Homo sapiens: one gene and its partners. The protein of the gene in region 1 interacts with the protein of each later gene in a biochemical or structural test. Each region holds a gene or a part of one and is shown in the gene's direction. Other genes may lie near its edges. The genes, in order: APBB1, CPSF6, TSHZ1, CHERP, APLP1, CYFIP2 and DDX17.

What was found.
Region 2: the proteins of APBB1 (region 1) and CPSF6 form a complex in vitro, tested with the Homo sapiens proteins (one study listed by BioGRID).
Region 3: the proteins of APBB1 (region 1) and TSHZ1 form a complex in vitro, tested with the Homo sapiens proteins (one study listed by BioGRID).
Region 4: the proteins of APBB1 (region 1) and CHERP form a complex in vitro, tested with the Homo sapiens proteins (one study listed by BioGRID).
Region 5: the proteins of APBB1 (region 1) and APLP1 form a complex in vitro, tested with the Homo sapiens proteins (one study listed by BioGRID).
Region 6: the proteins of APBB1 (region 1) and CYFIP2 form a complex in vitro, tested with the Homo sapiens proteins (one study listed by BioGRID).
Region 7: the proteins of APBB1 (region 1) and DDX17 form a complex in vitro, tested with the Homo sapiens proteins (one study listed by BioGRID).

The regions. Positions count from the first base shown.
Region 1 is NC_000011.10:6,408,762-6,412,991, reverse strand, and holds part of APBB1 (amyloid beta precursor protein binding family B member 1), read left to right. Parts: intron 1-1,630; 5' UTR 1,631-1,644; coding exon 1,645-2,365; intron 2,366-4,230. UniProt on the Homo sapiens protein: Transcription coregulator that can have both coactivator and corepressor functions. Adapter protein that forms a transcriptionally active complex with the gamma-secretase-derived amyloid precursor protein (APP) intracellular domain.
Region 2 is NC_000012.12:69,270,200-69,275,219, forward strand, and holds the end of CPSF6 (cleavage and polyadenylation specificity factor subunit 6), read left to right. Parts: 3' UTR 1-4,159; downstream 4,160-5,020. UniProt on the Homo sapiens protein: Component of the cleavage factor Im (CFIm) complex that functions as an activator of the pre-mRNA 3'-end cleavage and polyadenylation processing required for the maturation of pre-mRNA into functional mRNAs.
Region 3 is NC_000018.10:75,283,473-75,287,526, forward strand, and holds part of TSHZ1 (teashirt homolog 1), read left to right. Parts: intron 1-1,975; coding exon 1,976-4,054. UniProt on the Homo sapiens protein: Probable transcriptional regulator involved in developmental processes. May act as a transcriptional repressor.
Region 4 is NC_000019.10:16,535,753-16,539,982, reverse strand, and holds part of CHERP (calcium homeostasis endoplasmic reticulum protein), read left to right. Parts: intron 1-4,230. UniProt on the Homo sapiens protein: Involved in calcium homeostasis, growth and proliferation.
Region 5 is NC_000019.10:35,871,279-35,875,508, forward strand, and holds part of APLP1 (amyloid beta precursor like protein 1 isoform 1 precursor), read left to right. Parts: coding exon 1-71; intron 72-333; coding exon 334-467; intron 468-579; coding exon 580-758; intron 759-1,204; coding exon 1,205-1,335; intron 1,336-2,360; coding exon 2,361-2,435; intron 2,436-3,225; coding exon 3,226-3,384; intron 3,385-3,462; coding exon 3,463-3,591; intron 3,592-4,230. UniProt on the Homo sapiens protein: May play a role in postsynaptic function. The C-terminal gamma-secretase processed fragment, ALID1, activates transcription activation through APBB1 (Fe65) binding. Couples to JIP signal transduction through C-terminal binding.
Region 6 is NC_000005.10:157,320,927-157,325,156, forward strand, and holds part of CYFIP2 (cytoplasmic FMR1-interacting protein 2), read left to right. Parts: intron 1-2,015; coding exon of another isoform or gene 2,016-2,090; intron 2,091-2,994; coding exon 2,995-3,148; intron 3,149-4,230. UniProt on the Homo sapiens protein: Involved in T-cell adhesion and p53/TP53-dependent induction of apoptosis. Does not bind RNA. As component of the WAVE1 complex, required for BDNF-NTRK2 endocytic trafficking and signaling from early endosomes.
Region 7 is NC_000022.11:38,485,826-38,489,742, reverse strand, and holds part of DDX17 (probable ATP-dependent RNA helicase DDX17 isoform 1 precursor), read left to right. Parts: intron 1-1,627; coding exon 1,628-1,864; coding exon of another isoform or gene 1,865-1,870; intron 1,871-3,302; coding exon 3,303-3,808; 3' UTR 3,809-3,917. UniProt on the Homo sapiens protein: As an RNA helicase, unwinds RNA and alters RNA structures through ATP binding and hydrolysis.

The DNA.
Region 1 (4,230 bases):
TGGAAGGATAGTTGGGACTCAAATGGTTGCGGAGAAACTGACCCACGAAGGGCTGTGAGGAGGCAGAGGGAGGGGTCTGGAGGGGGAGCTGTCCTTGCGGAACAGGACGTCCTCTTACCTGAGAGGCAGGTGGAGTTTGTTTGGGGCACCATAAGGCATAGTAACGTAACCAAAGTGTTTTCTGACACTGGCAGAGGAGATGCCAAAGCGAAGCCTGGAGGAAATGGGGACTGATTCATACATTCATTCAGCAAATATTAATGGAGTTCCTGCTCTGTGCCAGGACTACGCTAGGCACTAGGCATACTGTATTTAACCAAAAAGGCAAAATCCTCACCAACATGGAAATTATAAATTATAGTCATGAGGAGACAATCATTAGACAAAGTAAATAATAAATTGGCTTGTCAGATGGTGACAGGCGCTGGGGAAGAGTTTAGGGATTGCTGAGGAGGGGCGGAGGTAGCCTGTGGTTTTAAAATGGGTGTTCAGGGAAGGCTTCACTGAGGCTGTGACATTTGGTCAAAGATCTGAAAGGCTGGGCCGGACGCAGTGGCTCATGCCTGTAATCCCAGCACTTTGGGAGGCCGAAGTGGGCGGATCACGAGGTCAGGAGTTTGAGATCAGCCTGACCAACATGGTGAAGCCCCGTCTCTACTAAAAATACAAAAATTACCTGGGCGTGGTGGTGGGCACCTGTAATCACAGCTACTCAGGAGGCTGAGGCAGGAGAATCACTTGAACCCGAGAGGCAGAGGTTGCAGTGAGCCAAGATTGTGCCATTGCACTCCAGCCTGGGCAACAAGAGCAAGATTCTGTCTCAAAAACAAACAAACAGACAAACAACCCCCAAAAAACAAAGATCTGAAAGGCTGAGGGGCCCAGGGGAAAGGCTCCCATAGTGATCCAGGACAGGGCATTATGAGGGCTGGCAGAGGGACCAGTGCCCAAGGGGAGCTACTTCATGGAAATTGTCACCAAGATGTAGCTTCATCTGGCCAGAGAAGCCATGAATTGCAGCCGAGCGCCCTCCCTCTGTGACCTGCCTTCCAGTGCCATGCCCTGTAGGGCTGGTTCTGCAGCTTATTTGCTCCTGTCCTCACAGTCCCTAGTATGGGGTGGGCTTGGGGGCTGGTTGAGCTGAGTGATTTATGGGAATAGGAACACAGCCGGAGGAGCTTACAGTGATGGGGCTTGGGATGGAAGTGCGGCCGGAGAGGGGCAGTCAGTGATCAGTGTCCAAAACACACGAGCCGGTCCCACTCTAGTGGTGTTCCTGGCACAGTAAGCCCCGGGTGGATGAGCTGGGGGGTGGGGAGGCACAGAGAGCCATTGTGTGGAGGCCTTGCTGGTGGGACCGAGGGCAGGCGCCAGCTGTGCCATCCCAGAAAGCTCAGGGCAGGGGATATAGGGATGGGGTGGGCCTCAGACCTGGGCCTGGACTGTGATGGGGATGATAGTGCTGGGACAGAAGTTGAACCCAGTCATTCTCATAGGATAGAGAGCCATGGGTGCTAGCCTGCTTAGTGCAGGGAGATGAGGAGGCACAGGGCATAGCCCTGGGGCAGAAGCAGTGATGCTGCTGTTCTGGACCAGAGGCTCAACAGCATCTCCCCTCCGCACCCCACAGGAGCTGCCAAGGCCATGTCTGTTCCATCATCACTGAGCCAGTCGGCCATTAATGCCAACAGCCACGGAGGCCCCGCACTGAGCCTACCCCTGCCTCTGCACGCTGCCCACAACCAGCTGCTCAACGCCAAGCTGCAGGCCACAGCTGTGGGACCCAAGGACCTGCGCAGCGCCATGGGGGAGGGTGGTGGGCCTGAGCCAGGCCCTGCCAATGCCAAGTGGCTAAAAGAGGGCCAGAACCAGCTCCGGCGGGCCGCCACGGCCCACCGTGACCAGAATCGCAATGTGACCTTGACCTTGGCGGAGGAGGCCAGCCAGGAGCCTGAGATGGCACCCTTGGGCCCCAAAGGCCTGATACACCTGTACTCTGAGCTGGAGCTCTCAGCTCACAACGCAGCCAACCGAGGCCTACGAGGACCTGGCCTGATCATCAGCACTCAAGAGCAGGGGCCAGATGAGGGAGAGGAGAAGGCGGCCGGGGAGGCCGAGGAGGAGGAGGAGGATGATGATGATGAAGAGGAGGAGGAGGACTTATCTTCTCCCCCAGGGCTGCCTGAGCCCCTGGAGAGTGTGGAGGCCCCTCCCAGGCCCCAAGCCCTTACAGATGGCCCCCGGGAACACAGCAAGAGTGCCAGCCTCCTGTTTGGCATGCGGAACAGTGCAGCCAGTGATGAGGACTCAAGCTGGGCTACCTTATCCCAGGGCAGCCCCTCCTATGGCTCCCCAGAGGACACAGGTACCTTGTGGAGCTTGACATGGGCATGTGGGAGGGTGTGAGGGCAGAGGTTAGGACTCTCATACAGAGGCCAGTGCCAGCCTGATGTGAGCTGAGAGCCCATACCCTGAGGCCACAGCAGGCCATGTCCAGGCTTTTTCATTCAGAGAGTGCTTGGACATTCTGGTAGATCTGACCATCATGCATGCCCGGATGGATGGATCTATTCATTATGCATGCCACCATGGTTGATAAGTGGACTAGTTTACTGGGCACTGACTAGGTAACTGGCCCTCTGCTCAGCATTTTCAGGCTTTATCCTTACAATAAAGCTGTGAGGTAAATATTATGATGATTCCCATATTACAGATAACAAAAAAGAGATCCAGAGAGGTTTAGTAGCTTTCTCGAGACCACAGACAGGCTGAGATTACAATAGAGCTGAAATCTAAACCAGGTCTCAGTCCAGGCCTGAGCTCTTGGCCCCGTGTTATGCTGCCGCCAATGCATAGAGCACAATGCACTCAGGTGCACTTGGGACAGTCGGCCCCGTTTTTTTTTTTTTTGAGACAGAGTCTCACTCTGTCGCCAGTCTGCCCCGTTTTAACAGGTCACGCCTGTTGGGAGCAGCCAGCAGCTCCCCACAGAGGTCTGTTTGGAAAGACTGGGAATGTTGTGTGCTTATAATCCACATGCTCCAGCACCATTGCAAGGATACAGTTTTGTCAGGAGTAGGATATTGACTAAAAGTTAGAAAAGAAAACCCTTTGGGTAGGGGGAGGAGAATAGATACTAGGACTCCAGGGCTTAATCATTAAATATGTCCATTTAAATTAAGCTGAGTCTCCACATTTTCTAATGTCGTGTAGCGAATACAGGAAAAGCTGAGGAACAAAGAGTGGAGATAATGGGCTATAGTTACAACCAAAACCCTGGAGTTTTGTAGATGGAGGTCTAAGAAAGATTAGGAAAGACCCCTATCCTTACCAGGTGGCGGACACAATACCCATACCCCAAACTGTGCAATCTTTGTGGAGAACATGCAGTTCAGATGAGCCTAGGGCTGCACACCATCCCCTTTCGAAAAACTCATTCTGGACATTTTCAAACATACACAAAAATAGAGAGAAAAGAATAATGAGCCTGATTTACCCACGAGCCAGTTTTACCAATTATCAATACATAACTAATCTTGCTACCTGCATGCTCTCTTCCGTTCCTAGGCCCAGCGTAGGTTATTCTGAAGCAAATACTTTTATCTATAAATGTTTACAGCTGGGTGCAGTGGCTCACACCTGTAATCCCAGCATTTTAGAAGGCTAAAATGGGTAGATTGCTTGAGCCCAAGAGTTCAAGACCAGTCTGAGCAACATGGCAAAACCTCTCCTCTATAAAAAAGACAAAAAAATTAGCCGGGAGTGGAGGCATCAGCCACTGTGGTCTCAGCTACTCAGGTGACTGACCTGAGAGGATCATCCGAACCCAAGAAAGTCGAGACTACAGTGAGCCATGATTGAGCCACTGCATTCCAGCCTGGATGGCAGAGAGAGACCCTTTCTCAACAACAACAACAACAGTTTACTTTTGCATTTCTGAAAGATAAAACTCTTAAAAAAAAAACCCACCACAATATCATTATTGTACCTACAAAAATTTAATAATAATTCTTTAATATCATTAAATATCCTGCCAAAAAAAGGCTGGATTGAGCCTGGGCACAGTGGCTCACGCCTGTAATCCCAGCATTTTGAAAGGCTAAGGTGGGTGGATTGCTTGAGGCCAGGAGTTCAGAAACAGCCTGGTTAACATGGTGAAACCCTGTCTCTACAAAAAACACAAACATTGGCTGGGCATGGTGGCTTATGCCTGTAATCCCAGCACTTTGG
Region 2 (5,020 bases), on another chromosome or scaffold:
CTGTTTTTACCTAGTTAGCTTGTGACTTTGCTGAATGGTATGTAAACTTGTAAAAATAGAGATTTGACAGACATAGCAATCTAGTCAATGTGTAAGGGGTCAAAAAAACAGAGGTTTTAACACATAAGTAAAAACCCGTACATATTTGATGTGTAATGCAGGTTAATTACAACACAGATGTACCGAAACACTTAATTGTGAACCGCTAACATTGAAGAAATTTTGACAATTCCGATTTGATGCTGCAATTACTTGCTGTTTTTATTGATCTTATGGTTTATTTCTTAAGCCATAGTCAGTGTAAATACAGCCCTGCAGCAGGTAAATGTGAGTAAAGAGAGCCTTATATTTTCCAATTGGTATAAATTTTTGAAGGATGTGATGTTCATTAACATTCGGTTGTATTCCCCAGTATTTGTAATGGGAAATTACAGATAAACCGTGTCTGCACAGTTTAAGGAATACTATGTATATTCATGCACCGTATTGATTCATGCTATAGTTACTTAATCAAAGATTTTTTTCAAACCTGCCTTACATATAGGCCCACTTTAAAAGCACCTGACTAGCATGTGTTCTTGATTGCAAAATTGGCAGAGGCAGGGTGTCAACTTGATTAGGTGTTTTTATGGGAATGTAATTTGAAATCACTACTTCAGAAATTTGACTTAAAATTCTTGAGCACGTTAATATGTTTTTAAGATCTGATTATCTTTGAGAGATCTTCTGTTAATACACATTGGTTGTTAAAGAGTACCCAAATTCTAGGACAATGCTTAAAGTGTTAAAATACCCTAGATACTGTGTTATGTGCAACTGTAGAAACCCTCCAGAAATTTCCACTGCTGTTCTTCACTTTCATCTTGTCTGCTATCAAACCACTTCTGACAAAATTAGCTGTTTTGAATTACCCATATCACTGCCAGTTTTATTTTAAAATATTTTGTGTTTGAAGTATCTGTGCATGGGATCGTTGATGTTTATCAGAACTGTTCACTTTCAGAAATGATTTTTTAAAGCATTTTGTTGAAAATGCGGTTGCTTTTTTAACATTATTTTAGAGTTGTATCAAAATTTTCCTGTTTTCTGTATATTGTTGTGTCATTTCTTGGCTTTTTAATATTTTGACTACAATGCCCTAATGCGAAGAAGTATGGACATATAAATATTACAAGAGAAATTAGTTAATAGTAAAGGGTTAAAAGGTAAGTAAAATGTCCATGAAAATAAAATTTTCTTTGAACAGTTTAAAAATGGAATCACAAAAATCTAACTGCACTTGAAATGAAACTGGAAATTTTATACTAATTAAATCCTTTATTTACCTTTTCATATTTTATCAATGGAACCTTTTAATTGCTCCTTCTATATCACTCTTCTCCTTGCTTGGCTGATCTCATTACATGACTTTCGTTACAGACAGTGTGAGTGTACTAGATTTGTTTGCTGCTAATCCGTTATTTTAAGTGTTGTCAGAAGGAAATAACTTCTTGGTTTGACCAAGTAATTTTGCAAAGTCCTTCTCTACCTGATAACACGTGAATGTATAGCAGTAAAGGTGAAAATTGCAGGCCTTGTTTTGTTCTTCATACCCCCTTCAGTTGTTTATGGGTTAATGTTATTTGAAAACTCTTCCTTTTTTTAATGTGTAAAAACAATCCAAAGAGATAAATCCTTGCATAGACACCAAAAACAGTGTCTCAGAGACCTTTTCATTTTTTCCTTAGTTAATAACTGTAGTGGATGTGAAAACAAACGAGTTGAATTTTAAAACATAGCATTTATTAGTGCTATACAGTCACATTCCTTTCAGCCAGTAGTAAAGTTAAACAGATGAGTGATACAGTACCTGAATGGTACTGCTTCTGAGGCAACACTTTGGATTGAAAGTGCTGCTTTTGGTTAAAGGAACTATGTTGTGGAAAGCATATTCCAGTGTAAATTTGCAGATGTGTGTTTTTTTTTTTTGTCACTTTTCATAAGGTTTGGAGTAAGTTGCAGTGGCTTTTGATCATAGTTTAGCCCATTTAATGGTCCTTTTACCTAGAATGTTCTTAAGCAGTTAATGACAATTTGGAATACACAGATAACTTGTAGCTTAAGATACTATTTTCATTTAATTCTCCTGTGGAGAATATTGCTTTATTTTTTACTAGTTTCAGGTCAGTTATTAAAATAAACATGGAGGTTTTAATGAATGTTGTATAATATTTTATAGTGAAGGAAAATTGTGGAAAGGGCAAAGACTTTCTCTTTCCCTTATGTATTTAACTGTGCCAATCTAAATACATACTGTTTTATACAATGAGATGCATTACAAGACTTTTCTGTTGGAGTGCTCTCGACATTTTGGTTTTCATACCTGAATGATCATTGCATTTTCTGTATTTTCTAAAATGGCTCCAATTTTGTGTTTTAAGCTTCAGCTTAAGAGGAAGTTTATGTTCTAATTCTTGACTGAGAATACAGTATTGAGATTCTCTGTTTTACAGATAACAACTGGTTTTTATTACTCATTAAGTTCATTTGCATCCCGTAGCCCTCTGTAAATGTTTCCCCTAGTTGTATGTACGTAAATGCACGCTTATCCAGTGTATATTAGACATTTTTGTGCTAAAATATATTAAGTGGGATTTTTGTAGCAAAGCATTCTATTTTTCTGTTCTTACAGTGTGTGTGTGTGTGTGTGTGTGTGTGTATGCGTTTTTTTAACCTTAACTTCAGTTTAAACACTGGTGTATTTATTTTTTTAAGCAACTTGACTCTTAGAAGCCTTAGACTGATTTTTTCAATAAATATTCAACCAAAAATTATAAATTTATTAAGATGTGGCCTTACATATGGCATTCCTTGTGTTCGTAATGTGAGATTTTTGATTTAGATAAATCAAGATTCAGGATTAAAGTTTCATTGTAAGTTGAAATAGAAAATGTATTAAAATGTCTAGGCTTCTGGGAGGAAGTTCTTATACTCTTCTTTCTTGGCATTAGAAAGAAGCAATATGAATTTTTGTGAATATTCTAAATATTCAGGCAACACTGTTCAGATTGATTTAGGTTTGTCTTAACCAATGTTCTTTTTTTAGAATTTCAGGTTGTGGCATTCACTGAGTATGCAGCTACTATGGTTTTTGTATGGGACGTATAAATACTTGATTATATACGACAGATTTTAATGTCTTTAAAGACTTCCTGCTGTATTAACATATTGTAATGGAGTCTTTTAAATACTAGGTTGAATTTAATTGAAGTCACACACATCTTGAAGTGGTAACTGCATAGTAAATACTACCAAGAGTTTTTTTCACGTGGGAGTATCCTAAAACTCTGCCATGGGTGTAAATGTTTTACATTAATTTCATAATTGGACAGACCCTGCATTTAGCGAAAACATTTTGTTTTGAAAGTGTGTTCTTTTTGTCGCACTGTTACTGCGTAACACTTCTCAACATTCTGTAAGTTAAATTATTTTAAAATAACTATGGTGAATTCATGTTTATTTTTTTACTTTGAAAATTGTAGTACTCAGGTGGTATTTAATGGGAAAGGATCCTTTGGGTATAAATCATAATGTATTTTAAGGAATGCATCTATAACATTGATAACTTTAGCCTTAAAAAAAAGGTCTATTATTCCTTCCTCTGCATCCCATGGTATATTAGCAAAGTAGTTTACAGCCCTGTACAGCCTTACAAAGTTGTTTTACAATTTTTAATGGAAAGCCCTTAACAACAACAACAAAAAATTGTATCATTTTACCAATATCCACGAATTACTGATCACAGTTTGTAAATAATTTGTTTAATATCAGAAGGCCAAAGAAAGTCTTAAAATTTTAGCTATTGACTCTATGGTGACTTCACAATAAGATTTCTGTGCAAAAAGGTAAGGTGATAATTGATCTAATAGACTTTTTTTTTTTTTTTTTTGCTGTCCATGAGAATTAGACTTCATATTAGCTTCAATTAAAAAGCTCATTCCATTTTATTAAAATGTTTGTAATTGCAATTTTGTGTTTAATGTTTACTTTGTCTTTCCTTTCTTTAGCATTTAGGTGACTGTTCGGCAGTTTGATATATGGCCATTGTCGGCCTTAAACTGCACTAGTAACAAGCATGGTATTTATCTTGTATTGAAAATAAAACAAACTTTTGATAAGACTTTGCAGTTTGTCTTTTTTGTTTAATTTGTTATTTGGTAACCATTGTGTATGGTTTTAAGTAGTTAATGTTTATTGGCAATATGCAGTATAGCAGAAATTGGACTGTTGTCTGTATTCTATCTTTAAGCCAGATAGTGGTGGTTTTCTTGTGTATTGACATTTTGGTGCTCTTTAAAGCGACTGATAATTGGGCTAAAATTAGGATTAAGAGGCCTGACAGATTTCCAGGCTGTTACATGGTTTTTAAATGGAAGATTCAGAAAGCATTTGTCTAGTTTTAGAGGATCATTAACCTTACTAGACTTAAGTAAAAATGTTTGTAGCAAAAATATTTTACTGGTTAGCTTGGAAACATTATGGGGTACTTTTGAAACAGTAACAGACTTCAGTTTCAGTGATTTCAGTAGATATTTCTGTGCCAGGTATTAATATCAGGCCTCAGATTTCTTACCTGCAAGCTTCAGAGTATTAAAGGTAACAGTTCTAAACAAGTGAATATGAACATGAGAAATAATACTACCATCACTGGGATCCCTTTCCATGCCTCCACTAAAATTGTGGTTCAGATTTTTGTTAGATTTCCTGTTACTGTTTGTTGTATGTTTCCATTGATCAATCCCTATTTGTGTTGAATTAGTTGAGACTCTCGTCCCTACCCTGTGAGGTCATTTAACTTTAAGAGAAGATCATTAGGAATATTTTTTGGCCAGATGCCACACTACATATGACTCAGTTCAAGACCTAATTTAGTGAAAGAGAGAAGCTTTTTTTTTACAAAAGATTTATGGACAGACTTTTCCCAGTCTTCCTAGTTTTGTTTCAGAGCCATTACCATGAAACAATAATTATTAGAAATGAT
Region 3 (4,054 bases), on another chromosome or scaffold:
CATGTTGATGCCCGTAGTTGAGGCCTGGGGTCTTACATGATTGGTTATTTTCCACACTCACAGTACAGTGTGAACAGGATTGTGATTCCTGGCTTTGCTGCTTTTCCACATACCTCCATGAAATGCGTGAACACAGGTGCGCAGATTGTCGTGTGCAGAAAAGGGCAGTGTGTGCAAGCACTCGGGATGGCCTGAACTAGAAGATTCTCCACATGACCGATTCAGTCGTCTCTCATTGTGTGTGTGTGTGTGCGTGTGCTTGTGTGTACACATGTGATTATGCGTGTGCCTGTGAGTGCTGGCTGCTGCTAGAATCTGAAGCCCTGCATTTGCGGGTTTTGAGGCTCTCACACTGCTCCCTGCTGCCCCTGGCATCCTCCCTTTGGGCGGCCAAGATGTTTTCTGTCCCTCCCAGCAGTCCTCCCTGAAAACGTCTGTGCTCCTTGTCGTGTTCCCTCAGGCCCTGGCTCTGATGATGTCATCATGAATGATGATATTTAATGAGACACCCCTCTCAGGTCAGATGAATGCATTTTAATAGGGATTTTCTGCAAAATATCTGAACCCCAAATACCCCAAGTTGTTGATGGAACTGTAGTCCAGCTAGTTGTTGCCTCGAGACGGGAAAAGTAAGTAAAAGTGCCTTGGTCAAAGAAGCTGAGGCAGTGTTCCTTGCAGTAGTCTCCCCTTGGGAGTTAGGAAGGTGTGTTGCATAGTGAAGGATCTGACATGTCCTGCAGTCACAAGTCCAGGTTTCATCTCGGTTTCTCTGCCTTCCAGCCTCATCCATGGGACAACTTCCATATCCTGGAGGCCCCTCTGGGAAACGCTGCCTTCAGCCCATGAAGTCGCTCCGCTGTGCAGTCGTGGGCCTGTAGTAGGCAGCTGGAGCGTGGACCGTTGGGCTTTTGTAATTAAACAGCTTTTATTGTGATAAAATATTTATAATGTATAAGTGACCATTTTAACCATTTTAAGTGCACAGTTTCATGGCGTTAAGAACGTTCATATTGATGTGCAGCCATCACCACCCTCCATCTCCAGAACTTTCTCGTCTTCCCAGATGGAAACTCTGTCCCCATCCCCTCCTTCTCCTGGCACACGCCACCACTCTGCTTTCTTTTTCTATGAATGTGGCAACTCTAGGGCCCTCACGTGAGGTGAGCCATGCAGTACATGTCCTCTTGTGTCTGGCTGCCTTCACCGAGCACTATGCCCTCGAGGTGCGTCCGCGCTGCAGTGCGTGTCAGAACTCCCTTTCCAAGCCTGAGTGTGGACGGGCCACACCGCGTTCATCCCTCCAACTGTCACTGGACCTTTTGGTGCCTTCCAGCTTTTGGCTGCAGTCAATGAGGCTGCTCTGGGCCTTGGTGAACAACCGTGGCTTTTGCCGTCTGGCAGCCCCATGCGGGTGGCGCTTTGCTCTGCCAGGCAGGAGATTGGCGGTGCCATGTTGGTGCTTTTGGTGAAGACCAGAGTGTTTTCATTGCTTGCCATTGAGGAGTGTTTTTACTTATGGAAACGATATACTGTCTGTGAATATCCTGCTCTAAAAATTGATAACCAGGTCCTGCCCGATGGGTGTTTACAAATATTTGCCATATGGAAGTCATGAGGGGACTCCTGGGTCACTTACAGAGGGAACAGCCTATAGGAGGGGTACTTGGCAGGTGGTGGCTGGAGTCCCAAGTTCCTGCCCTTCCCACCAGGCTGCAAGGGTCAAACTGACATCTTTGGGACGAGCACAGGACATCATCCTCCAGCTCAGTCCCCTTTGCTAAAGACACACTCAGGAGGGGACAGCACCTTTTGAAACCTAACTCCTGCAAAGGGGTAGATATGTAAACTTGGGGTAGCCTTGTGTCCTGGGGGCTAGGCTGACAAATATCTTTTTAAAGATCATCTAACTGCTGGGGAGGCTGTCTCTTTGAAGATGATTTACTTCTTCTAACTGGGTTTCATTTTTCTCTCCTAGCTTATGTTCCTGAGGAAGAATTGAAGGCAGCAGAAATAGATGAAGAGCACGTGGAGGATGACGGGCTGTCTTTGGACATTCAGGAAAGTGAGTACATGTGCAATGAAGAGACGGAGATCAAAGAGGCGCAGAGCTACCAGAACTCCCCAGTCAGCTCTGCGACTAACCAGGACGCCGGCTACGGGTCGCCCTTCAGTGAGAGCAGCGACCAGCTAGCCCATTTCAAAGGCTCTTCCTCTCGAGAAGAGAAGGAGGATCCGCAGTGTCCCGACAGCGTCTCGTACCCCCAGGACAGCCTGGCACAGATCAAAGCTGTGTATGCAAACTTGTTCTCCGAGTCCTGCTGGTCCAGCTTAGCTCTGGATTTAAAGAAGTCGGGTTCCACCACCAGCACCAACGATGCCAGCCAGAAGGAGAGCTCCGCCCCCACCCCCACACCCCCCACCTGCCCCGTCAGCACCACTGGCCCCACCACGAGCACGCCCAGCACCAGCTGCAGCTCCAGCACCAGCCACAGCAGTACCACCAGTACCAGCAGCAGCTCCGGGTACGACTGGCACCAGGCTGCACTGGCCAAGACGCTGCAGCAGACGTCCTCGTATGGGCTGCTTCCTGAGCCCAGCCTGTTCAGCACCGTGCAGCTCTACCGCCAGAACAACAAGCTCTACGGCTCCGTCTTCACGGGCGCCAGCAAGTTCCGGTGCAAAGACTGCAGTGCCGCGTACGACACGCTGGTGGAACTGACGGTGCACATGAACGAGACAGGCCACTACCGTGACGACAACAGGGACAAGGACTCCGAGAAGACCAAGAGGTGGTCCAAGCCCAGGAAGCGCTCCCTGATGGAGATGGAGGGGAAGGAGGATGCCCAGAAGGTGCTGAAGTGCATGTACTGTGGACACTCCTTTGAGTCCTTGCAGGACCTCAGCGTCCACATGATCAAAACCAAGCATTACCAGAAAGTGCCTCTGAAGGAGCCAGTGCCAGCCATCACCAAACTGGTCCCCTCCACCAAAAAGCGGGCGCTTCAGGACCTGGCGCCCCCCTGCTCCCCTGAGCCAGCAGGAATGGCCGCAGAGGTGGCCCTGAGTGAGTCAGCCAAGGATCAGAAAGCAGCGAACCCGTACGTCACGCCCAATAACCGCTATGGCTACCAGAATGGCGCCAGCTACACCTGGCAGTTTGAGGCCCGCAAGGCGCAGATCCTCAAGTGCATGGAGTGTGGCAGCTCCCACGACACGCTGCAGCAGCTCACCGCCCACATGATGGTCACCGGGCACTTCCTGAAAGTGACCACCTCGGCTTCTAAGAAGGGCAAGCAGTTGGTGCTGGACCCTGTGGTGGAAGAGAAGATCCAGTCCATCCCACTACCGCCCACCACCCACACGCGGCTGCCGGCCTCCAGCATCAAAAAGCAGCCCGACTCTCCCGCGGGGTCCACGACTTCTGAAGAAAAGAAAGAGCCAGAGAAGGAGAAGCCGCCTGTGGCTGGCGACGCGGAGAAGATCAAGGAGGAGAGTGAGGACAGCTTGGAGAAATTTGAGCCCAGCACCCTGTACCCGTACCTGCGTGAGGAGGACCTGGACGACAGCCCCAAGGGAGGGCTGGACATTCTCAAGTCCCTGGAGAATACCGTCTCCACGGCCATTAGCAAAGCTCAGAATGGTGCGCCCTCATGGGGTGGCTACCCCAGCATCCATGCAGCCTACCAGCTCCCGGGCACCGTGAAGCCACTGCCGGCGGCCGTGCAGAGCGTGCAGGTGCAGCCGTCCTATGCTGGCGGCGTGAAGTCGCTGTCTTCCGCCGAGCACAACGCCCTCCTGCACTCCCCAGGGAGCCTCACGCCCCCACCGCACAAGAGCAACGTGTCTGCCATGGAGGAGCTGGTGGAGAAGGTCACGGGCAAGGTCAACATCAAGAAGGAGGAGAGACCCCCTGAGAAGGAGAAGAGCTCCCTGGCCAAGGCTGCGTCCCCCATAGCAAAAGAGAATAAAGATTTCCCGAAAACGGAGGAAGTCAGCGGCAAACCACAGAAGAAGGGCCCTGAGGCCGAGACTGGGAAGGCCAAAAAGGAGGGAC
Region 4 (4,230 bases), on another chromosome or scaffold:
CAGGCACAGTGGCACACACCGTACCCCCAGCTACTCAAGAGGCTGAGGCTGGAGGGTTGCTTGAGCCCGGGAGTTCAGGGCTGTAGTGCGCTGTGTCGATTGAGTGTGTGCAGTAAGTTCAGTGTCAGTATGGTGACCCCCTGGGAGCTGGGGACCACTCGACTGTCTAAGGGGTGGTGAACTGGCCCAGGTCAGAAATGGAGCAGGTCGAAACTCCTGTGCCGATCAGTAGTGGCCTCACGCCTGTAAATAGCCACTGCACTCCAGCCTGGGTGACATAGTAGAGAATCTATTTAATAAAAGAATGTGCTTGTATGAGGGAAGAGTTTGACCTGGAGTGTTAACTGCCAGGGGAAAAGTTTGGGTTTTTTCACTCAATCCAGGGGTTTTTCTGATGCCTATTTAGGTTTGAGATGCGGGGGTGGGGTGGAGAGAGATCAGCTGCCTGAAATCGTAAGCAAAATATTGTATGTGCTTATGTGTTTCTAGAGCGATCCTTCCTTAGCCCCAGCACACCAAGTTTAAAACCGTTGCTAGGCCGGGCGCGGTGGCTCACGCCTGTAATCCCAGCACTTTGGGAGGCCGAGGCGGGCGGATCACGAGGTCAGGAGATCGAGACCATCCTGGCTAACACGGTGAAACCCCGTCTCTACTAAAAATACAAAAAATTAGCCAGGCGTGGTAGCGGGCGCCTGTAGTCCCAGCTACTTGGGAGGCTGAGGCAGGAGAATGGCGTGAACCTGGGAGGCAGAGCTTGCAGTGAGCCGAGATCGCACCACTGCACTCCAGCCTGGGCGACAGAGCGAGACTCCGTCTCAAAAAAAAAAAAAAAAAAACCGTTTCTAAAGGCAGCGGGAAGCCACAAGAGTTTTAAACAAGGGAGAGGGTGGCTTGGGTTGTGTGGCCGGTGGTGTAGGACAAGCTACAGGGACCAGCCTGGGGAGCAGTGAGGCCTGCAGGGGAGCAAACAGGGCAGTTGTTTAGGTGAGAGATGGTGGGGTCTGAATTAAGTCAGTAGGTTGAGCCTGAGGGAGGGAGCATGGGGGGCAGGTGGGGTGAAGGGGTAGAATCCATGAACTTGGGCGCCAGTTGCATATTGACGACCTGATGGTGTAATGAGCAGGGGAGGAAGACACCTCAGACGGTGCTTTGGCTTGGGTGACTGAGCTAAGGGCTGCTTTCCCTTTCTGGGGCGGGGGGGTGGCCACTTGGAAGCTGGTGCCATTATGAGGAAGGAGAGGGTGCTTATGCTTATAGCCCAGGAAGATTGAAGCCAAGAAGTGCTTTCTTTTTTTTTTGGAGATGGAGTCTTGCTCTTGTTGCCCAGGCTGGAGTACAGTGGCAAGATCTTGGCTCACTGCAACCTCTGCCTCCCAGATTCAAGCGATTCTCCTGCCTCAGCCTCCCAAGTAGCTGGGACTACAGGCGTGCGCCACCACACCCAGCTAATTTTTGTATTTTTAGTAGAGATGTGGTTTCACCATGTTGGCCAGGATGGTCTTGATCTCTTGAACTCATGATCCGCCCACCTTGGCTTCCCAAAGTGCTGGGATTACAGGCGTGAGCCATCGTACCCAGCCAAGAAGTGCTTTCTGTGGGTGATGATATCTTGGCTAGATGTAAAGGGTGTGTTGGAGTTGGCCAGGTGAAAACAAGGGGAGAAAAGTGTTCCGGGCAGAGGAAGGAGCCCTTGGAGGGAATGGGGAACCCAGAGCTTAGGGTGGCTGAAGCCCAGAGTAGGAGGGGTTCTTGGAGTGGCCAGAGGTGGGGGTGCAGAATTGGGAGCCTGGCTTGGGGAGGAGTTGGAGGCCTGGCTTGGGGAGGAGTCGGGGACCTGGCTTGGAGAGGAGTGAGGAGTGTATCCTGGAAGCGTGGGAGAGACTCGTGGAAGGTTTAGGTCTGTGTTGTGAAGCTGGGTTAGCCACAGTACAGCCAGTTCTGCACCCCACGCCTTAAAGCCTGGGCCTCAACTGTTGTAGAATGGAGCTTCACGAACTCTGTGGTGAAGGACCATTTCTGGTGTTGTGTTTTAAGTTTCTAACCTGTTGTGTGTGGACCAAAACTTCTGCAAAGCACAGTAACAATGTGGACCGTGAACCATCACGCTGCTAGAAAGGTTTTGAAATGCTCCCTTTCTGGTTCCATAACCGTCTGTCACCGCTGGGTAGCCCAGGGACCACTCCATAAGTGGCAATACCATGACTGCCATGTCAAAAAGAGGTAGAGGGATGGGACCTGATGCAGGAAGACCGGTTCTGGGGTGACGCAGGTGACAGCAGATCCATGGTGGTGACAGCGGGGACATAGACTGATTGGAGTGATGTCTCGGAGGCCGCCTTGACACTATGTGGCTCGTCACTGGGAGGCACATGCTACTTCTGGCCTGGGTTTCTGGGCAGATGGTGGTGCCAACCATGGTGCGGGGAGCACAGGAGGGGACATAGGTGTAGGGGGTGAGAGGAAACACAGGCCCCTTGGAAACACAGTGGGCCGTGCAGTTGGTGGTTAGGGCCAAAGCTCAGGAATCCAGAATGGAGATGATGGATTTAGGAATCACACCATGCACAATCGCAGCCACAGGAATGAGTAGCTCATGTTGCCCGGCGGTTGCGTAGAGCGGAGGACAGGGCTCAGAACACAGGCCGCGCACCCCAGCATGTGAGGGTCCAACGGGAGAGGGGTTGGTAAAGGGGGAGAAAGGGACTGAGGGGGCGAACACATGGAGGCCAAGGGAGGCAAGCACCTGCGACAGGCCCGGGGGGCTGAGTTGAGTGAGGGTGTCCTCAGCTGCCTGGGGGAAGGAGGGGGGTGCGGGGAGTGGCAAGCAGGCACCAGGCTGAGATAAAGGGGAGGTGAAGATCTGGAGTGAGTCTTGTCTGAGAAATCGTTTAGAGAGGGATCATGGGGTAAAGGGAGAAGTTTCCAACCCAGAATATTCTGATGTGTTTATTTATTTCCTTTTTTATTTTTTGAGATGGAGTCTCACTCTGTCACCCACACTGGAGTGCAGTGGCGCCATCTCGGCTCACTGCAACCTCCACCTTGCAAGCTCAAGCAATTCTCCTGCCTCAGCCTCTCAGGTAGCTGGGATTACAGGTGCCCGCCACCACGCCCGACTAATTTTTTGCATTTTCAGTAGAGACAGGGCCATGTTGGCCAGGCTGGTCTCGAACTCCTGACCTCAGGTGATCACCCGCCTTGTCCTCCCAAAGTGCTGGGATTATAGGCGTGAGCCATCATGCCCAGCCCAATGTGTTTAGATGCTGCTGGGGAGGGACGGGTAAAGAGGGAGGAGTTGGAGAAATAAGAGATAGAAGAAATATCAATAAGCAGTGTCCCTCAGACAGTGGGAGGGGTGGGATTCAGTGCAGAAGTTGGGGGTCATCCTGTAGGGTGGCTTTGGGTGCACAAACTGGAGGGCACAGTCAGCCCCGAGACTTGACTTGAGCGCCCAGTGAGGGGCGACACCTTCCACCTGACACCCCACCTCCCTTATCTTTGGCTTTGTCCTGGTCCCCTTGGAGTGGGGCTCTGGAGGGCTCCAGGGGTACCTGGTCACATTTAGACCAGGCGGCCCCAAGACGGAGAGAGAGGCAGGTCATCTTGTCCAGGGCCTCCTTATGAGCCGGGTCCCTTCCTCAGAGACCTCACCACCTGCCCCATCTGGCCAGAGTTGGGACCTGCGCCCACCCTGACCCAGGCTTCTGCCGGCAGAATGGGTGTCTCACTGCTGCCTCAAACTGGATGCACCCCTGAATGCAGAGGGGTCTCTGTCCCCAAGGGCTGGAGAAGCAAGGAGAGTCAGTAGAAGGACAAGGCAGGTGTGGGGGAGGCCGCAGTGTGCGCTCGGGGGTGCGGCTTCGTGCCTTTCTGGCCAGATGTGCAGAGGCCCGGTGGCTGTGACATCTTAACAGTCAATGGGTAGCTTAAGTGGCAGAGGTCAGGGAGTGGCCGAGGAGGTCGGAGGATGAGAGGTACTGAGGCCTGGGTTCTGCATCAGGTGGGGCCTAGGTGGGTGAGGAGGTGGGCAGGCAAGCTTAGCTTGCACCGGAAGGACACTGCGCAAGGACTGGATGGTGCTGGCGAGAGAGCGGCCAGGGGACTTCCTAGGTTCTCCGAGGAGGGGACGGCCCGAAGATGGAATGCTGAGGCTGGGATCCTGTGAGAGGGAGGGCAGGACCCGAGACTAGGAGGAGCTGGTTTGCGTGGGCATGAGGCTATGAACAGGCC
Region 5 (4,230 bases), on another chromosome or scaffold:
GCCGGTTCTTGCACCAGGAGCGCATGGACCAATGTGAGAGTTCAACCCGGAGGCATCAGGAGGCACAGGAGGTCAGGACGTTGGCCCACCCGTCCCCAGCCCCCACAACCCAGGAACTGGGACCTCTAACACCCTCCGCCACCAGAACCGAGGAGTCTGGGCCACCAGCATCCTCTTCGCACTTGGGATCTAAGAATTTCATCCCCCAACCCCTTCCTCTAGAAGCAGGAATCCAGGCTCCCAGCCTCATCAACCCCCAACCCTGGCAGCCCAGTTCCCCATCTACCCCCTCCCATCCCACAATCCTGGCATCTGGGCCCACTCTTCCTACAGGCCTGCAGCTCCCAGGGCCTCATCCTGCACGGCTCGGGCATGCTCTTACCCTGTGGCTCGGATCGGTTCCGTGGTGTGGAGTATGTGTGCTGTCCCCCTCCAGGGACCCCCGACCCATCTGGGACAGCAGTTGGGTGAGTGGGAGGGAACCCTCCATGCCCATCTCAAGGTTCCTGAGGCAGGGGATGGAAGCCTGGGAGCCCAGGCCTGGGTTCTTACTGCCTGGGTCCTCTCCTGCTCCCTCAGTGACCCCTCCACCCGGTCCTGGCCCCCGGGGAGCAGAGTAGAGGGGGCTGAGGACGAGGAAGAGGAGGAATCCTTCCCACAGCCAGTAGATGATTACTTCGTGGAGCCTCCGCAGGCTGAAGAGGAAGAGGAAACGGTCCCACCCCCAAGCTCCCATACACTTGCAGTGGTCGGCAAAGGTGAGGCAGTCTCTGAACCCCTGGGGCCTCTCCACCATAGAGGGAGAAAGATCTGGGGGAGTCTTGCTGGGGGGTGTCTTTGGGAGGGGCCTATAGGGGAAAGGCCCAACTGAGGAGAAAAGACGAGAGTATCTTTGGATAAAATAGAAGTAGAAGGGCTAACCTGCCAAGGGAGGGGGTGGTTTGGGGGTACTTGGGAGTAGAGGGGCCATTGGGTAGGTCTTGAGGATCATTTCAGGAAAGCTTGGAAGATGGTGTAATGGATTCCTAAGCTTTGCAAGAACAGGCCCAGTCCAGAACTACATCTCCCATAATGCCAGGCAGCAGCGGTGGCTAAACTGGGTGCATGATGGTCTCCAGTGCACTCTAGGAAATGTGGTTCTCTAGGTAGAAAAGGCGACCTGGAGGTGGGCTGCAGACTGACCTCCTGATCCCTGGTCTTGCAGTCACTCCCACCCCGAGGCCCACAGACGGTGTGGATATTTACTTTGGCATGCCTGGGGAAATCAGTGAGCACGAGGGGTTCCTGAGGGCCAAGATGGACCTGGAGGAGCGTAGGATGCGCCAGATTAATGAGGTGATAATACTGGGGGCCCCAGGACCCCCTACAGTACAGAGCTCCCTAAATACCAGGAAATTCCTCCAGGACACATTGATACTACCTCCAAAGGCTCCCTAAGCCCCTTTGACCTTGAGCTCTCAACACCACCCCCTAAGATGGCCAGAGATCCATGGCCCTTCTAGAATCCCACTGAGACGCTACCAGGTTCTCTGGAAACTCTGGTCTATGGTACTCTTTCACTTTATTGGTTTTTTTTTTTTTCTTTTGTTGTTGTTGTTGTGACGGAGTTTCGCTCTTAACACCCAGGCTGGAGTGCAATGGTGCGATCTCGGCCCACTGCAACCTCTGCCTCCCGGGCTCCAGCGATTCCCCTTCCTCAGTCTCCTGAGTAGCTGGGATTACAGGCACCCACCACCACGCCCGGCTAATTTTTGTATTTTTAGTAGAGACAGGGTTTCACCATGTTGGCCAGGATGGTCTTGAACTCCCGGCGGGAGGAGATCCACCCGCCTCGGCCTCCCAAAGTGCTGGGATTACAGGCATGAGCCACCACGCCTGGCCTCTCTTTCACTTTAAACTCCTTCTGGATCTTCCCTCTTGGGAACCCAGGAGCCAGCGAGACTTAAGGGATCTGGGGCCTTTAAATCTTTTTTTTTTTTTTTTTTTGAGACAGAGTTTCGCTCTGTTGCCCAGGCTAGAGTGCAGTGACGTGATCTCCCACTCACTGCAAGCTCCACCTCCTGGGTTCACGCCATTCTCCTGCCTCAGCCTCCCGAGTAGCTGGGACTACTGGTACCCACCACAGCGCCCAGATAATTTTTTCTGTTTTCAGTAGAGACAGGGTTTCACCATGTTAGCCAGGATGGCCTCAATCTCCTGACCTTGTGATCCACCCACCTCGGCCTCCCAAAGTGCTGGGATTACAGGCATGAGCCACTGCGCCCAGCCATGGGGCTTCTAAAATCTTAAAGAGGGGTTGGGGGACTTGCCAGGTGGATCAGGGTGGATTCTGGGATCCTGAAGCTCCCCTCCCTATGCAGGTGATGCGTGAATGGGCCATGGCAGACAACCAGTCCAAGAACCTGCCTAAAGCCGACAGACAGGCCCTGAATGAGGTAGGACAGCCCCAGTGGGTCCTACTCATGCCTGTCCACCACCTGGAGCACACTCAGTTTCACCTGGCTCTGGCTGTGCCCTGCCCATCCAGTTCCACCCCTTCCCACCTATCTCAGCCTTTCCTGGCCCCATGCCTACATGCAGCTCTGCCCCTCTTAGCCGTCATCTGACCTGACACTGCTCTCCTCCCCAGATTGGCCATATTCGGCCCCATCTACAGACTTGACTTGCCTCTCAGGGCTGGCTCTGGAGTCCTGTCCCAAGCCAGGGCCTCTGCAGATGCAGCCAGGGCCTTCTTGGTCTCTCTTTGATGCATTTATGTCTCTATCAGGCCCCGCCCCCTGATTCTGGCTCTGCTGGGCCAATCTCACCTTTATTAACCTGACCTACCCCATGGAGACCCCACTCATGTTAGCCCCCATTCCAGCTCTTTGTCCCACCCCTATCGTGTCATTTATACACAGCCTGTCTCCAGTTTGACCCTGCCCAGGCCAGGAGCCCTGCAAGGCTTTGTCCCTTTCACCTTAACATTGGTCAGTTCTGCTCCCAGATTGCTCCCACTCAATCTTACAGTTTACATCCTCACATTGGCTCCCAGTGGGCCTAGTCCCACCTCCACTCTGCCTGGCCCTGTAGCCCACCCCTTCCAGTCCATAACCTTTGGTTCTGCCCAGGCCTGGACCCCTGGAACGCCCCCCAACCCCATGTAGCCCTGCCTTTCCAGGCTCTCTTTGACCAGGCTTTGACCCATCTTCTCCTCTCCTGACCCTGTGCCCACCCGCTCCCCAGCACTTCCAGTCCATTCTGCAGACTCTGGAGGAGCAGGTGTCTGGTGAGCGACAGCGCCTGGTGGAAACCCACGCCACCCGCGTCATCGCCCTTATCAACGACCAGCGCCGGGCTGCCTTGGAGGGCTTCCTGGCAGCCCTGCAGGCAGATCCGCCTCAGGTGCGGGGACCGTGGGGGCAGAGAGCAGAGGGTGAGAAGGGTCAGGGCGGGCTTGGGCATCCTGTGTCCCTTCCACAGGCGGAGCGTGTCCTGTTGGCCCTGCGGCGCTACCTGCGTGCGGAGCAGAAGGAACAGAGGCACACGCTGCGCCACTACCAGCATGTGGCCGCCGTGGATCCCGAGAAGGCACAGCAGATGCGCTTCCAGGTGCTCACATCCTTCCAGCTCCCAAATGCGCCGCTATTCCTCAGACGCCCGCGCCTCAGGCTCTTCTCTTGTCCCTTAGACCCTCTTTCTGTCTCTTGGACCCCTTCCTATCCCCTGAACACCGCTTCTCTGCCCCTTCCCAGTCTCTCAGCTCAGCTTCCTGACCCTGAAACATGGACCCTCACATGCTGTGTCTTTGACCCCTGCTTCTTGGCCCTTGGATTCCTACTCCCCCCGCCGTCGATCCTATGTTCTGTCCCTTGGATTTTCACTGCCTTTCCCAGAATCGTCTTTTTTTTTTTTTTTTTTTTGAGACAGGTTCTTGCTCTGTCGCCCAGGCAGGAGAGCAGTGTGCGATCTTGGCTCATTGCAACTTCCACCTCCTGGGTTCAAGCAATTCTCCTGCCTCAGCCTCTCGAGTAGCTGGGATTACAGGAGCCTGCCACCACACTGGGCTAATTTTTTTTTTTTTTTTTGACAGAGTCTCGCTCTGTTTCCCAGGCTGGAGTGCAGTGACATGATCTGGGCTCACTGCAACCTCCGCCTACTGGGTTCAAGCTATTCTCCTGCCTCAGCCTCCTGAGTAGCTGGGACTACAGGCGGGTGTCACCACATCTGGCTGATTTTTGTATTTTTAGT
Region 6 (4,230 bases), on another chromosome or scaffold:
GGCTGCTCCGGTCTTATTCTGCCATCTTGTTTTGATATAGGAAGGAGGACCACTGGCTTAAGATTCAGGAGACCTGGATTCTAGTCCTAGATACCTGTGTGACCTCGGGCACTTTACAGATCTCTCTGTGCCTCAGTTGTTTAAACTGGCTAATGGGGATAATACCACCACATCCACCTTGCCTGGCTATCTTCTAGTCCTATGAAGTATAGATTCCAAAGTGGAGGAGGAGGTTAAAGTGGAATCTATCTGCATGCATCTATGCTGCCCCTCTTTAATAAGTCCTGGCCCTTTCCCCTAAAAGTTCTGCCTCTGACTTGCTGTGTGATCTTGGGCAAGCACCTTGAGCTTTCTGAGCTCTGATTATCTTCTCTGTAAAATGAAAACTTTGGATGAGATTGTGTTACTAACAAAATATTCCTTAGTTCCACATCCTTCCAAAAGTGCAAGTATTGAAAGCCCTTGTCCCCTTAGAGGAAGTCTAGTATTTGGAAACACTCAGAGTTGCCAGCCAGAGCTTCTGCACAAGAGGTCGCCCGTGGCTTATCCAGAGCAGTCATAACGTTACAGAAAAAAAAGTCAATAATCTGGGCATCTTCGTTAAATCCCTGCTACCTACTTAAGGATAGGTAGTTTCTGGTAATATTTTTGATGTACTGGAAAAAGCAGATGGTTCTCATTGCAAGTTTAAGGGTCTCACAGGCCTCACTTCCCATGACCTTTAAGCCTCTCTCTGTTCTCAGTCACCCAAGATGGACCATCTGAGGCCCACCCCCGACCCTTCTCCCTGTGTGTGCGTCTGTGTCTGTGCTGGGGGCTGGGGCAGGGGAGAGGTGGGTTCTCGGCAGGGTCATCTTAACTCCCCTTGGCTTCACAGCCCTCTGCTAGTTTGCACCAATCTCACCGGCTGGTTGTAGAACGCCCCAAGGAAGCGTCTGCAAACAGTTCTGTGTAATATCAAGGGTTGAGGTCCGGGAGACACTGAGCAGGGCTTTCAAGTGTTTCTGTAAATTTTAAGACATGAGTGAGCAAGAGACAGACAAGGCACAAAAGACACTGGAAAGGAGGAGGAGGGGACTTAACAGGCAGAGAGAAAAGGAGAGGAGAGGAAGGAGTATTTGTGTAGATAATGTGAGAGGGGTGGGTCACCAGCAGTAAATCCCGCCTCACCCCCAACCTCTACCAGGTCATGCTAGGTGGCACAGACATGTTGAATAGACTCGTAGACAACCAGAGCTGGGAGCGCTATTAGAGAAACCTAGGCCCTCCCCCTCTCTTGCGGATGGGGAAACTGAGGTCTAGAGAGGGGAAGTGACTTGTCCAAGTCACAAGGTGAGTCCCAGGTGGAGGTGGGACAAGAACCCAGGTCTCCTGACACCCACCCAGGGCTCTGGTACGGTCTTCAGGACACAGTAGACATGGGCATCTTGCATAGTTGGGATAGAGACTGTTTTGGTGAATTAAATGCTCTGTTAAGTAAAAGTACGTGGGAAAAAAGTTCACCTTCTTATGGGTGAAACCAGTTTTCAGAGAATTAGAGTTGGATATCAACTGGACAGCACCCACAACAGATTAGACTTGGATTCTTCCTTTGAGGACTTGAGAGGCCGTCATGAGAAGAGTGCTTCTCGGCTCCTAGGGATGGTGAGACAGGCCCTCCAACAGGGCTGCAGATGGGGGACTGTCTGAGGCACTGACGGCCACTGTGGCTGCTTTCCCACAAAGGAAGCCCTGTGGCAGGGATGGTGGGTCACACGTTTCTGTGGCTGCTCTACCCGCATCAGTGCCAGGCATGTGATGGGGGAGATCCCAGGGAAGCTCCAGAGGCAGCGAAGACGAACGCGGTTGCTGGGAGGTTGGAGTGTCTCAGAGGTGGCCCCCGGCAGTCGCGGCGGCTTTCCCACCGTATACAATACCTCTTGCTTTTCTCTCTCTCTCTCTCTTTCTCTCTCTCCCTCTTCCCTGTCTCTCCTGCCCTCCCATTCCCTCTTCCTTCTCTCCTATCTATGTCTTAGGCCTGCCAGTGGTCCCCGAGGGCTTTGTTTCACCCCACTGGTGGCACACAGGGCCGAAGAGGCTGCCGATCCCTGGTATCACACCGCCTGGCTGGGTTGGTTTGGGTACCCTTCTCGAGGAGGCAGCAGGAATGGACTAGCCTGGCTCCTCAAGGCCCCTTCCAGCCCTAAGATTCACAGACAAATGATGTGGAGAGATCTAGATTAGCAAAGAGAACCACCCCACCGCACTTGCATCCTTTGCACTTAAGGCACCCTGTAAGCGGGAGTTAATTGTCTAGTAGCCTCCTGTGTAAGTACCAATGTTAACCCGCCTTCCACCCTGAACTTCAGCAGGCTGTGCAGTGCAGCTGATGCCACCAAGGGGGCGCCATCGCTCAGCCATGGGGTCAAAACGCTGAGGGTCAGGAACAGGTGTGGGAGGGGGTTCGTTCTGATCTTATCCCATTTCTCAGTTCCTCAGAATGTTAGTGCTGAAAGGGACTGGTGTGAGAAGGCATCTGGTCCAACCCCCTCATGTTACATGAGACAACTGAGGCCCAGAGTGGGGGCTTTGTTGCCTAAGGTCACACAGCAAATCAGCAGCAGTGCCTGGCCTTGAACCCCGGTCTTTTGACTCCCAGTCCAGTGCTCCACCCATGGCATCTGTGGCCCTCTGGGAAAGCAGGGAGTGACTCCAGGGTGACACGTAATGAGGTTCTCCTCTGATATACACGCCCTTGGCCAAGCAGAGCAGGGAGCTACCTGGTGTGGCCAGGTCCACTGGCCCAGGGATGCCACGGGGCCCGGGTTGGCCATGAAGGTTTTCACAGTTCCACATTTATTTCTCAAACCTTAAACTGGTGCTTCCTTAGGACAGTGCTTTTTAAGAGCAGACATCTGCAGAAAAAAAAAAATACATAAATACAACATGAAGCAACCTTTTTCCCCGGGGTAGAGGGCCAGCTTCTGACCTTCTCATCTTGCTTTCTTTTTCAAGCTGTACATGGTGCGGACCATGCTTGAATCACTCATTGCAGACAAAAGCGGCTCCAAGAAGACCCTGAGGAGCAGCCTGGATGGACCCATTGTCCTCGCCATAGAGGACTTTCACAAACAGTCCTTCTTCTTCACACATCTGCTCAACATCAGTGGTGAGCTGCATCCCATCCCTGCTAAGGCATGGGAGGAGGGGATGAGGGCTCTCAGAGCCGCTAAGACCACCAAGCCAGGCATTGCAAAGGGACGTGACCGTTGACCCTAAGGGGCACATATCACCACCAAGGAAAAAACACATACACTTTCCAGTGGGCTTTTGGAGCTAGGAAAGGCCAGGTTCAACTCAGCTGTTCTGACTTAGCTAAATTTGTCCAGGAGATACTTGTGGCTAATTTGTCATAAAGTCCTTAGTAGAGCGGGATCAAAAACAAGAATACGTACATACAGACACACGGATGCTAGACTTTTGCTACTCAGCCGCAACCAAGCGCTAATTAGTACTTGCTGCTGCCAGCAGGGGAGGCTCTCGAGCTGCATCCCAGTCCTGTGTTCTTCACACTTCCTCTCCTTTTAGTAAGATGTATGTCCAGAGCAGAGGAAGAGTAGTATCTCAGGAACATGAGTCTTCATATGTCTGCTGGCATTGACAAGAGTGATTGTAACAAACAGTACAAACTTCTCCATTAGAGAGTAGCCCGGGAAGGGCCTTCAAGGTCTCTAAACTGTATGGGATCTGGCAATTATCACACGCGAGGAGTCAAGGAGCCACAATCCAGTTGAAAGTGGGCACTCGGGGGCCTGTCTTGACACTGTGTTTGTATAATGAACACACTTTTTTTTTTTTTTTTGAGACGGAGTCTTGCTCTGTTGCCCAGGTTGGAGTGCAGTGGCACTATCTCAGCTCACCGCAACCTCCGCTTCCCAGGTTCAGGCTGGAGTGCAGTCGTGTGATCTCAGCTCACCGCAACCTCTGCCACCCAGGTTCAAAGAATCCTTCTGCTTCAGCCTCCCGAGTAGCTGGGATTACAGACATGCACCACTGTGCCCGGCTAATTATTTATTTTTTTAATTTATTATTATTATTATTTTTTGGTATTTTTAGTAGAGACGGGGTTTCGCCATGTTGGCCAGGCTGGGCTCAAACTCCTGACCTCAAGTGATCTGCCTGCCTCAGCCTCCCAAAGTGCTGGTATTATAGGCATGAGCCTCTGCGCCCGGCCACGAGCGTACTTTTCAT
Region 7 (3,917 bases), on another chromosome or scaffold:
TTCTGGTGTGATTCAGGACTTTAGGGGTCAGTAAAGACCGAGGAGCCTTTATTGTAATAAGAAACAGACATAATGCCCCTTCTTCACAAGCCCTGTAACAACAGCTAATTTTTTTTTTTTAATCTCCCCTTTCTCCCTTGAAATTAATCCAGTCTGGGCAATAGATGCAGTCTGACCCTTTGGATGTAACTTACATTTTTTTTTATTAATTATTTTTTTCTACAATCACCCCAATTATCCTTGGGGGAGGCGTTGGAGGACCTGAAATTTTTACCCGAACCCAGGTTCTCCGGCGCTTGGCAACCAAATGGGGCTACAGAGAAGCATCTAAGCCAGTTCACAGAGCGAGCGTGTGTGGGGACTTCTCACTGCCACGGACCCTTGATGCATGCTCCCCGCGCTCCAGTGGTCCCGTGTCAGAAGGCGGAGTTTTCGAAAGGAGGCCGCCAAAAATAAAAGGCAAAGAGACGGGATCGGCTGCAGCGGTTTCCCAAAGGAGGAGGGAGTGTGCATCGGTCTGGTAACAAACAGAGAATGTTTTTTAATTATTTATATCACAAAAATCTGTGTTTTATCTAGGATATTTTCTGAATATTCTTTGTAAAATGCAGATTTTTTTCCACAAAACAGTAGGATTCTTTGTTATATTCTTAAAATTGTTTGTTTAAGTAGGTAAAAATATACATTCAGCTGAAAGCATTACACTAACATTTACATTTTAAGCCTTAGGAGGTTATTCAGCCCAATTCCCAGCAGTAGAGAGAATACTAAACTTGTGTCTCAAGGTTTCATGGTTTTCCCACGTTCTTTGGCTATTAATTTAATTTCCCAGGTCACGTAGACAATCATTGATAATTGAAACAAGTCCTGAGTTGAAATAACCTTGAGTTGAGCAAAAATATCCTCATTTTGGCAGAAGCTGGGCTTGGTAGTACAGTAAAATTTTAGTGTAATGTGCTCTTGTAATTGAAAGGGGATAGATAATCTGGATGTTTCTGCAAAGGAAAATAGGTGTGTACTTAACAGCTTTGGCTCTACTCAGTTTCTTAAAAAGATAAGAGCAAAAAAAGTTAAATGTTAATCAAAACATTTAAGTTTCCTTTAAATTGTAGTAATAAAATATATGAAGCTCCTTTTTTTACTTTGCTCTGTGACTGGTTTAAAGGTAAGTTTGTTATGTTGTTGGTAGATTTTGCCAGGCTTCTCCCAACAGAGTAGAAGTGATTTGGCCTCATAACTTCACAGTGGTTTACCACTTTGTTCTATGTTCTGGTTTTGTAAAGGATAGTACTGGAATTTGCGTCTGAAGACCAATATTGGTGTAACTCCTGTCAGTATATTGGTAAAATGTAGCAGAGGCAGGAGTTTGGATGTTTGGATGGGATTCCCTTAGGATTCTACAGCCAATAAAGATCCTATTTCCTATGCATGTCCCAGGAATCAGTAATCCTCTTTTACTCTGTTGGGATGAGTCTTTTTTTGTTTCTGTTCAGAGTGGTTACTAACTTCACCTTCTTTCCTCTTGCTGTCATCTGCATTCGTGCTTCCCACCTGTTGTTGGCATGTCCTTTACCTTCTCTTTCCCTGCCACATCAACCTACACACTGACTCATCATTGACGTGGAAGATGTGGAAGATGTCAAGTTTGTGATCAACTATGACTATCCAAACAGCTCAGAGGATTATGTGCACCGTATTGGCCGAACAGCCCGTAGCACCAACAAGGGTACCGCCTATACCTTCTTCACCCCAGGGAACCTAAAACAGGCCAGAGAGCTTATCAAAGTGCTGGAAGAGGCCAATCAGGCTATCAATCCAAAACTGATGCAGCTTGTGGACCACAGAGGAGGCGGCGGAGGCGGGGGTAAGGGTAAGTCCTGGAGTTTTCCAGGTACTGCCAAGGTATCTCTTTACGCCTTCTGTGACTTGCTTTTAGTTGCTGTTTTTAAGAAGGCTGTAAGTATGTTGCTTAATAGCAAAGGACACTGCCTAATGCTTTTTATAACCTTTTTCAACTAAGAAAACGTGAAGTTTGTTGTGATAGTCCTATTAGTTAAGCTAAATTGTGAATTTTTTTTTCTTAGAGACTGGTCTGAGGTTTGGTTTTGTTTGTTTGTTTGTTTTGAGACGGAGTCTTGCTCTGTCGCCCAGGCTGAAGTGCAATGGCGCGATCTCAGCTCATTGCAACCTCTGCCTCCCAGGTTCAAGTGATTCTCCTGCCTCAGCCTCCCAAGTAGCTGGGATTACAGGCACCCGCCAGCACACCCTGCTAATTTTTGTATTTTTAGTAGAGGTGGAGTTTCACCATGTTGGCCTGGCTGGTCTCGAACTCCTGACCTCTGGTGATCCACCTGTCTTGGCCTCCCAAAGTGCTGAGATTACAGGAGTGAGCCACCAAACCTAGCTGAGGCTGGTCTGTGGAGTTTCACCATGTTGGCCTGGCTGGTCTCGAACTCCTGACCTCTGGTGATCCACCTGTCTTGGCCTCCCAAAGTGCTGAGATTACAGGAGTGAGCCACCAAACCTAGCTGAGGCTGGTCTGAGTTTTAATGTGGTTGCTTTGGCGGGGCGGGGGCAGAGACAGTCTCACTCTGTTGCCCAGACTGGAGTGCAGTGGCACGATCTCGGCTCACTTCAACCTCTGCCTCCTGGGTTCAAGTGATTCTCCTGCTTCAGCCTCCCAAGTAGCTGGTACTACAGGTATGTGCCACCATGTCCAGCTAATTTTTGTATTTTTTGTAGAGACAGGGTTTCACCATGTTGGCTGGTCTTGAACTGCTGACCTCAAGTGACCCTCCTGCCTTGATCTCCCAAAGTGCTGGGATTACGAGAGTGAGCCAGTGTGCCCCCGGTCATGGTTGCTTTTTTAATACTTTCAAAAATGCTTAGTAGTATATTAGGTTTCCAGTTTTCCATACGGAGAGGTCAGTCATTTTACACTGTTTAGTGGTGGGTAGAAACTGAGACATAGCAGTTGCATCTACAGTTGCAGAATATCCTAGGATCTGGGCTTCCTGACTCAAGGTTTCATATTGTAATACCGTGTTTCTTGATCATCCTCAAGTAAGGGGCCTAAAAGGGTGAAAAGGTCTAGTGTCCTTTAATTTTTACTGTGCTTTTGAATGTGCCCCATTAAAGAATCAAATTATGAGTATATTTTTACAGTACTAATTGGGAGGCTGGCCAGCATAACTAAATATCAAGGAGACATGTTTAATACTTTTGTACCCAGTAGAATTTTTACATTGTTATGTTTAGGTCCTATATCTGCCATTAAAAATCTTCTTGTATCTTCCCATTAGGTGGTCGTTCTCGTTACCGGACCACTTCTTCAGCCAACAATCCCAATCTGATGTATCAGGATGAGTGTGACCGAAGGCTTCGAGGAGTCAAGGATGGTGGCCGGAGAGACTCTGCAAGCTATCGGGATCGTAGTGAAACCGATAGAGCTGGTTATGCTAATGGCAGTGGCTATGGAAGTCCAAATTCTGCCTTTGGAGCACAAGCAGGCCAATACACCTATGGTCAAGGCACCTATGGGGCAGCTGCTTATGGCACCAGTAGCTATACAGCTCAAGAATATGGTGCTGGCACTTATGGAGCTAGTAGCACCACCTCAACTGGGAGAAGTTCACAGAGCTCTAGCCAGCAGTTTAGTGGGATAGGCCGGTCTGGGCAGCAGCCACAGCCACTGATGTCACAACAGTTTGCACAGCCTCCGGGAGCTACCAATATGATAGGTTACATGGGGCAGACTGCCTACCAATACCCTCCTCCTCCTCCCCCTCCTCCTCCTTCACGTAAATGAAACCACTCAAGTGGTAGTGACTCCAGCAGACTTAATTACATTTTAAGGAACACTGTCTTTCCTTTTTTTTTCCTCTTCGCCTTTTCTTTTTTTTTCCTTTTTTCTTTTT